3 linked regions of the Homo sapiens genome follow. The protein of the gene in region 1 purifies or fractionates together with the protein of each later gene. This does not show direct contact. Each region holds a gene or a part of one and is shown on either strand. Other genes may lie near its edges.

The links.
Region 2: the proteins of RAB8B (region 1) and SYTL4 purify together in Homo sapiens (affinity purification with mass spectrometry; 2 studies listed by BioGRID and IntAct, with this or other methods). This does not show direct contact.
Region 3: the proteins of RAB8B (region 1) and PPM1H purify together in Homo sapiens (co-immunoprecipitation; one study listed by IntAct). This does not show direct contact.

Annotation. Positions count from the first base shown.
Region 1 is NC_000015.10:63,253,822-63,255,716, reverse strand, and holds part of RAB8B (ras-related protein Rab-8B), read right to left. Parts: exon of another isoform or gene 211-1,895; coding exon 133-210; intron 1-132. UniProt on the Homo sapiens protein: The small GTPases Rab are key regulators of intracellular membrane trafficking, from the formation of transport vesicles to their fusion with membranes.
Region 2 is NC_000023.11:100,690,514-100,694,173, reverse strand, and holds part of SYTL4 (synaptotagmin-like protein 4), read left to right. Parts: intron 1-2,964; coding exon 2,965-3,066; intron 3,067-3,535; coding exon 3,536-3,611; intron 3,612-3,660. UniProt on the Homo sapiens protein: Modulates exocytosis of dense-core granules and secretion of hormones in the pancreas and the pituitary. Interacts with vesicles containing negatively charged phospholipids in a Ca(2+)-independent manner.
Region 3 is NC_000012.12:62,799,142-62,802,801, reverse strand, and holds part of PPM1H (protein phosphatase 1H), read left to right. Parts: intron 1-641; coding exon 642-986; intron 987-3,660. UniProt on the Homo sapiens protein: Dephosphorylates CDKN1B at 'Thr-187', thus removing a signal for proteasomal degradation.

The sequences.
Region 1 (1,895 bases):
CTTCAGAGAGAGAGGGCCCAACCTGCCCATGCCCTGCTTCTAAGCAGCTCAGCTGCCTTGCAGACAGAGGAGCCTTTTACAAGCACCCAGCAGGACTCTTCTCCAATGTCACCATTCTCTTTCCACACATACCTCTTCAATGTTTCTGATCCAATTTTTAATATTGTCAAAGGATTTTTCATTTGTGATGTCATAGACCAGCATAATGCCCTATAAGGGGGAAAAATATCTTTATTTAGTACTTTATATATTTAAAGTTATAGTATATAATGTCAATGTACTCCTACCCTCCAGAAACCTTTTGTTTGTCCATTTTTTCCCTTTAAAAAGGGTTCATAATAAATTTGAAAAGTACAGAGAAACAAAAATCAATAAATACTTATTCCACTGGTCTCACCATGTAAATAAAAACCCTTTTAACATTTTCACTGTTAACCTTTAATGAATTAGTGATCGTGGTAAAGGTGATACACCCTTTCTACCTGACCTCACATGATAACAATCAGCCCCAATTGGAGCTGAGTGTTAAGTCAAAACAGCGATAACATTGAGAGTAAGAGTTAATCACTTCCACTGTGCACTTGTTTATTCCAAGTAGAAACTATCTTGCTTTCTACTCTTCTACTAAGATTGAGACCACACTGCTTTAAAATTATTTTTTATGTAGGTTGATCAAAAAATAGGTTGTCACTATTTATCTAAGTACATCACAGACACTTAAAATCCAATGCATTTGTTATACTGGTTTAATGAAAGGCATTCTCATCATATTTTTAAAGACTCCATGTCTGGTATTTCTTTTTTTGAGACACAGTCTCGCTCTGTCACCCAGGCTGGAGTGCAGTGGCATGATCTCCACTCACTGCAAGCTCCACCTCCCGGGTTCACGCCATTCTCCTGCCTCAGCCTCCCGAGTAGCTGGGACTACAGGCGCCCGCCACCACACACAGCTAATTTTTTGTATTTTTAGTACAGACAGGGTTTCACCATATTAGCCAGGATGGTTTCGATCTCCTGACCTCGTGATCCGCCCGACTTGGCCTCCTAAAGTGCTGGGATTACAGGTGTGAGCCACCGCGCCCAGCCCATGTCTGGTATTTCTAAAAGGTTTACCTTCCAAATGTTTAAACTAACACCTGTATGCTACTGCAAAATCTATATCCCCAGACCACACTTCTGTACTAAGTGCTAGAACTACTCACCTGTCCATCTACTACATAAATATTTAGTGAGCACCTACTGTGTGCCTGATACTATACTAGATCCTACTAGCAGTGAACAAGATAGAAAAGGTCTCTTCCTCTTGTAGATGGCTAACAAAGACAACAGACAATAAACCAATATCTATACAACTAATTATAATTTTGACAACTGCTATGAAGATGCATGGGGAGCTCATATGCTAGGGGTGTAATTCAATCTGGTTGAGGGGCTGGAGTGGGCAGGGGAGGCTTCCCTGAGGAAATGACATTAAAGCCAAAGCCTGGGAACTTAGTAGACTTAAACTAGGCAAAGGGCTAGGAGCTGCGGTGAAGAGGGGAAGCCCAGGTACCTGGCAAATAGCAGAAACATTGTAAATCTCTTGCTGATGTTGAACCAGAGACCGCTGGATTGAGTGAAAGAAAGTCAGCTTGGCAAGGCTGCACAGATCTAATGGGCGGAGGGCACAAGCTGAGGCTGAAGGGCTAGGCTGGGGTACTCAAGAGACCACTGTCTGGACATTGGCCAATAGATATCCCCTTGTGATCACGGCAAACTCAACAAAGTAAAACAAGATTGTCTTGTCTCCTCTGAATCTTCTATTTGTCCTTGTATTACCATTTTGGTGAAAGTAATACAACCCAGTCAGCCAGCCCAAGCACACATGTGGGAGTTATCTTCTCTATAGCCAATCA
Region 2 (3,660 bases), on another chromosome or scaffold:
TAAAATCATTTTAATCAATTTTAAAGTATAAAGTTCTGTGATTGTTAGTACTTTCAGAATGTTGTGAAATTAGATCACCACTATCTAATTTCAGAACATTTTCACCATCCCAAATAGAAACCCGATAGCCATTAAGTAGCCACCTCCATTTACCCCAGCCCCTAATATGCTTTCTGTCTTGATGGATTTGCCTAATCTAGACATTTCATATAAATGCAGTCATGCAATATGTGGCCTTTTGTGTTTGGCTTATTTCAATTAGCATAATGATTTCAAAGTTCATCCATGTTGCAGCATGTATCAGAATTTCATTGTCTTTTATTGATGAATAATCCATTATATGAATATACCACATTTCATTTGTCTAATCATGCATTGATGGACATTTAGGATGTTTTCATCTTTTGGCTATTAGGAATAATGCTGCTATGAACATTCATGTAACATTTTTGTGTGGACATATATTGTTTAGTTCTGTTGGGTAGGTACCCAGGAATGGAATTGCTGGGTCATATGATAGTTCTATCCCTGATTTACATTTTAAAAGCTCATTTTGGCTGTTGAGGGAAAGTCAAAGCCAAGGGAAGAAGCAGGATTAGTTAGGAGGCTACTGCAACCATCCAAGAGCTACATGATGGTGGTTTGGACCAGAGTAATGGCAGTGGAGGCAGTGAGAACGTATCAGAGTCTAGGTATACATTGAAGAGGATTTGCTGACAGATTTGATTTGTATTGTGAGAAAAAGAGGAGTAACCGATGATTCTTAGCGTTTTTGACTTGAGAAATGAAAGGGAATTGCCATTTGATGAGACAGAGCGAAGAGCAGTTTTGGGGGAAGATTAGGGCTTTGGTTTTGGGCTTGCTGTGTTTGAGACATCCACGTGGAGACATTGAGGAGGCCATTGGAAAAACAAGTCTGGAGTTTGAGTAAGAGATAAATTTGAGGCCGGGCATGATGGCTCACGCCTGTAATCCCAACACTTTGGGAGGCTGAGGCGGATGGATCACCTGAGGTCAGGAGCTCAAGACCAGCCTGGCCAACATGGTGAAAACCTGTCTCTACTAAAAATAAAAAAATTAGCCAGCCATGGTGGCACAAACCTGTAATCCCAGCTACTCAAGAGGCTGAGGCAGGAGATCGCTTGAACCCAGGAGGTGGAGGTTGTAGTGAGCCGAGATTGTGCCACTGCACTCCAGCCTGGGTGACAGAGACTCCATCTCAAAAAACATAAAAAATAAAAATAAATATATTTGAGTTATTAGTTTATTGAGGATATTTAAAGCCATGAGACTAGATGAGATCATTTAGGGATAATTCTAGATAGAGAGGAGGAGCAGCCCAAGGAAGAAGTTTGGACATAATCTAAATATTAGAGGTCTACGGGAGGAGGAAGGACTAGCAAAGGAGACTGAGAAGCAGCAGCCAGTGAGGTTGGAGGAGGAAACCAGGAGAGTGTGGTGTCCGGGGAGCCAAGGGAAGTTATTTGAGATATTTGAGGAAGAATCGATGTTTTTTCCCCCTTTTCCTGCTGCTCTCACTAATTCTTTGAGGTAAGGGGCCGAGGAACCGTATCCTTCCCTTGAAAGATGAGAACTGGTATTTTGAATGCCCAGAGTCATCCTTCATTAAGGCGATTAAGCTAAAAAAAAGAATTCTGGTCACCTGAATACTGTCTTCTAGACATACTGCTTATTTATGGATATATCTCAGTCCCACTGAGGGCATTTATTCAATAATTCAGTCAATAAAAATACTTGAGTGCATACTCTATGCTAGTCTCTCTTCAAGGCACTGAGAACACATCAGTAAATAAGATACGTGGTCACTGATCTTATGGAACTTTGTCGAATGGAGGAGAAAGACATTAAATAATTTGTTTAAATTATTGAACCAAATAAATAATTTGTTTAAAATACATAAATAGTTACATATGTGGTGACTGTTACTAGGAAATCAGGATGCTATGGGAGCACAGAGGAAGGTTACTAATCGAGACTTAGGGTGGGGGCATGGCCAGAGAGATCTGGAGGAATTGACATATAAGGAGAGACCTGAAGCAGGAGTAGATTGAGGCAGGTGAAGAAAAGTGGCCATTGTGAAAAGAATATCTTAGGCAGATAAAAGAGGGAAGATGGAGAGCTTCAGGATATTCAGAGAAACAAAATAACTTTGTCTTTCTAAAATATAAAGCTTGAAGGAGGAGTAGGGGGTGAAAAATGAGACTGGAGAGGGTGAGCAGGGGCCAAATCATGAGGATTTCTTGCCATGCTAAGGAGTTTCAGCTAAATCCCAACAGCAATGGGGAACCACTGAAGAGTTTTAAAAGTATACTGAGGGCCGGGTGTGGTGGCTTACGCCTGTAATCCCAGCACTTTGGGAGGCCGAGGCAGGCGGATCACGAGGTCAGGAGATCGAGACCATCCTGGCTAACACATTGAAACCCCATCTCTACTAAAAATACAAAGAAATTAGCCGGGCATGGTGGCACGCACCTGTAGTCCCAGCTACTCGGGAGGCTGAGGCAGGAGAATGGCGTGAACCCAGGAGGCGGAGCTTGCAGTGAGCCAAGATCGCGCCACTGCACTCCAACCTGGGAGACAGAGTGAGACTCCGTCTCAAAAAAAAAAAGTATACTCAGCTGGGCACCATGGTACATGCCTGTACTCAGCTGGTACACCATGGTACAGTTACTCAGAAGGCTGAGGCAGCAGGGTTGCTTGAGCCTAGGAGTTAGAGACTGTTGTGCACTATGATGGCACCTGTGAATAGCCACAGTACTCCAGCCTGGGCAACATTGCGAGACCTTATTTCTTAATTAATTAATTTATTATATGTTTAAAGTATACTCATATTTATTTTAGAAAGATCACTCAGGCTACGATTGTGAATGGATTGGAAAGAGGCCTGACTAGAGGCAGGAGAACCTGCTTCCTTTCAATATTGGCTCTTGGTTTTTATTCTAGTGTGCTATTTGAAGTGCCAAAGCTGAAAAGTGGAAAGAGTGCATTGGAAGCTGAGAGTGAGAGTCTGGATAGCTTCACAGCTGACTCGGATAGCACCTCCAGGTGGGGTTCCCCCCATTTCCCTCATCTCCTCTCAACCCAAGTTGTGATTTTGTTCTGCAGCATCAGTGTTCCTGACTTCTGTCCTCAGGAAGTTGAACGAAGTATTTTCTCTGTCCTCAACAGAAGTCTTTTCAGTAGCACGTCTACTGATTTGGCTCTGAGCACAGCTTCCTGGAACACATTGACATCTCTAGTCAATTCCCCCAGTATCTTGGAGTATTCTTCTTAGCCCAGTAGCAACTGATGCTGCTGTCCCTTAAGAATGAGGGTGTGAGTGTTTGTGTTTGTGCAAAGTTGCCTATCTGATCTTCTGCATTCCTTCCAGGTAAATCACATGCGAAGTGTACCTTCTGAATTTGGTTATTACGATGACCCAAGCCATTGGCTCTCCTTCCATAGAGCTTTGATCCCTGGGTAGAAGGGGAAGGGTAGGAGGTGACTTAGTTATAATTTCTGAATCTACCTCCAGGAGAGACTCTCTGGATAAATCTGGCCTCTTTCCAGAATGGAAGAAGATGTCTGCTCCCAAATCTCAAGTAGAAAAGGTAAGCTTCAGGTTATTGAGCCACCTTCCTCCCCTCCCTTCCTTCCCTT
Region 3 (3,660 bases), on another chromosome or scaffold:
GACCAGCCTGGGCAACATGGTGAAACCCCATCTCTACTAAAAATACAAAAAAAAATTAGCCTGGTGTGGTGGCACGCGCCTGTAGTCCCAGCTACTCCAGAGGCTGAGGCATGAGAAGACTGAGGCATGAGAATCGCTTGAACCTGGGCGGTGGAGGTTGCAGTGAGCCTAGATCGCGCCACTGAACTCCAGCCTGGGCCACAGAGTGAGACTCTGTCAAAAAAAAAAAAAAGACGGGAGTTAAGGAGTTAGGTGTTCAAGCTGGACTCGTACAGACTTGTCTGTTTGTAGGAGAGTTTTATGCAAACACCTACACTTCAAATTAGAGTAGATCTCACCCTCCAAGTAGTAGCTTAGTGTATGATCATTTGGGCTCCCTTGCTAGGTGGGGAGGCAGAGACCGCTTCATCCTTCTGGTGCTAGTAACAACAATGGCTCATTTGGGGACCCTTCCCTGAGTGTTTTTTTTGTTTTTGTTTTTGTTTGTTTTATTTTGTTTTGTTTGCTATGTTTTGACCGCATTGTTTGCAGACGACAGACAACCAAGTGGACCCTCAGTCCCATAGATGTCCCACAATCTGTATGACCCTGAGGCAAAGTCCACAGCCGTTCTCACTCCTCCCTGTCGTCCTCTCCCACAGGAATCCGAGGGTGTTTCCTGCCACTATTGGTCGCTGTTTGACGGGCACGCGGGGTCCGGGGCCGCGGTGGTGGCGTCACGCCTGCTGCAGCACCACATCACGGAGCAGCTGCAGGACATCGTGGACATCCTGAAGAACTCCGCCGTCCTGCCCCCTACCTGCCTGGGGGAGGAGCCTGAGAACACGCCCGCCAACAGCCGGACTCTGACCCGGGCAGCCTCCCTGCGCGGAGGGGTGGGGGCCCCGGGCTCCCCCAGCACGCCCCCCACACGCTTCTTTACCGAGAAGAAGATTCCCCATGAGTGCCTGGTCATCGGAGCGCTTGAAAGTGCATTCAAGGAAATGGTAGGTATTCCTGGGAGTCTGGGGCAGCAGGGCCAGGCTGGCGCCTGCGCCAGGTCTGTCCGTCCTTCCTGGAGGGCTCCCAGAAAGCGCACGGTTTTGCTGCCTGGCTCCACCTGGACGGCCCCCTGTGATAATGGGGCTTCCATTCCCAATAGAAATTGGCAGCAGACAGAGTTCCTGGCATCAAGTGCTGGCAAAAATGTAAAAGAAGGCTGAGTGCGGTGGCTCACGCTTGAAATCCCAGCACTTTGGGAGGCCGAGGCAGGAGGTCAGGAGTTCAAGACCAGCCTGGTCAACATAGTGAAACCCCGTCTCTACAAAAATACAAAAATTAGCCGGGCATGATGGCCGTTGCCTGTAATCCCAGCTACTCGGGAGGCTGAGGTGGGAGAATTGTTTGATCCTGGGAGACAGAGATTGCAGTGAGCCAAGATTGCGCCACTGTGCTCCAGCCTGAGCAACAGACCGAGACTGCGTCTCAAAAAAAAAAAAGTAAAAGAAGATGAAAGAGGGGGACAGTGCATGAGGTCAGAGGCTTATTAAATACAGGCCTTATTGCTTTTATTTCCTATATTCATATTGATGCCAGCTGGTACGATTGCACTTAGATGTGAGCATGATCACCATCTGTTTTACAGATGTGTATAAAGTCCGGTGTTGGGGGAAACAGGGTTTAGGAAAGTGCTCAAAAGTCCCCATCCTATACAGATGTGATCTAAGAACGGCTGTTTTACCACAACTGGGAATGTGGTTCACACTGCAGACAAAGTGCTGGAGGAGAACAGAGCCAGGGGCCAATATCCAAGAAGTCTTAGTCTTACCCAGGCATGTGGATTTGTCTGTTCGTTTCCATCTGAATGGGTCTGATCGGGAGTTCATCATCCTTCGCTGTTGGCCTCACTCCTGAGCATGTCCTCGGGAGAGTGCCACAGCTCTCGCTGTCCCTTGCTGCCCCTCTGCCTGGCAGGAGTGCACATAGAAGCCGCCTCTGCTTTGTTCTATGCCAGCTCTTTCCCTCTGTGAGCTTACTTTATCCTAAGCCAATTATTTTGGTTTTAAAGATTTTATTTCTTGCTCGGCAGCCTGCATACAGATAAAGAATAAGAGATATTTAAGGATATTTATAAGGGCTTGAGTTAGGCAAGTGGGCAGTCATGGCCTTAAAACCTGGAGATTACAGGCCGGGCACGGTGGTTCATGCCTGTAATCCCAGCACTTTGGGAGGTCGAGGTGGGTGGATCGCAAGGTCAGGAGTTCGAGACCAGCCTGGTGAATAAGGTGCAACCCCGTCTCTACCAAAAATACAAAAAAATTAGTCGGGCGTGGTGGCACATGCCTGTAATCCCAGCTACTTGGGAGGCTGAGGCAGGAGAATTGCTTGAATACAGGAGGCAGAGGTTGCAGTGAGCTGAGATCATGCCACTGCACTCCAGCCTGGGCAACAACAGCGTGACTCCATCTCAAAAAAACAAATAAACAAAAAAAAAAAACCTGGAGATTACAAAGTGATGAGAAGCTGTTAAATGAAGTCAAAACAGCTAGAAGCGTCTTGCCAGAACCGGATAGGCACATGGTGCATGTTCCAGGATCTCACGGCATCAGGTAGTGTGCTAAGAAGGAAAGTAAATAATGACTATACATATCGTCATCTGATTTGTTTGTAAGGCAAAAATAGTTCATATATTCACCCCTCAAATTTGCATCCTCTTTTTATTTAAACGTGTCCCTTCTTTGGTCTCAGCTTTTTCTCTCCTTGTTACAGAGATAACATTTACCCTTTGACTAGCAGGTGGTTTAAAATGCACCTTGCTGGGCGTGGTAGTGGTGCATGCCTGTCATTCCAGCTACTCAGGAGGCTGAGGCCGGAGGATTGTTTGAGCCCAGGAGTTCTGAGCTGTCATGTGGGTTCAGTGTCAATGTGGTGACCTCCTTGGAGCAGAGCACCACCGGGATGCCTGAGGAGGGGTGACCTAGCCCAGATCAGGTTATATCTCCAGTGCTTTTTTGTCACTGTATTCCAGCTTGTGCAACACAGCAAAACCCCATCTCTTAAAAAATAAAATTAAGAATAAAAATGTAAAAATAAAATGCACTTCTATCTCAAGACTGTCTGATAGCCTGCAACCCTGCAATCCCAATGAAAATACCAGGAGGCTGGAAAAGATTATTTAGGAAAAAGGGAATTAAGGTAGGAAAATTGACTCCCACTCAGTCGTGGTGTAAAATCTCACTCTCTGCCTCTGTAGAGGCTCTGATGTCAATAAATGTTTCTAGACACTAATACTCAGAATGCCAAGTATTGAATTTATTTTTTTAATTATTTAGGCAAAAATTTGACAATGGGCTCTCCTTGTAATGTAATGTAATGTAATTCAGTTTGCATGGTAGAAGTGAAAAATAAAGGAAACGTTGAGATTTTCATTTCCTTCAGTTGTGACTAGTGCCACAGGACATCTTTTACCTGGAGCTGCTGCATTCTCAATTTTGTCCACTAGAGGCCAATGTCACATTGACTCAGGACTCCACAGGGGTCTCAGGCTGTTCCTGCCCATTAATGGCTCAGGGTTGCTCTTAACAACTGTGCTGGCAAAGAAAGGTTCATTCAGAAAAATACTTAAGAGGCTCATTTTTAAAATATTTCTACTTTTAATGAACCAATTCATTACCTCAAATT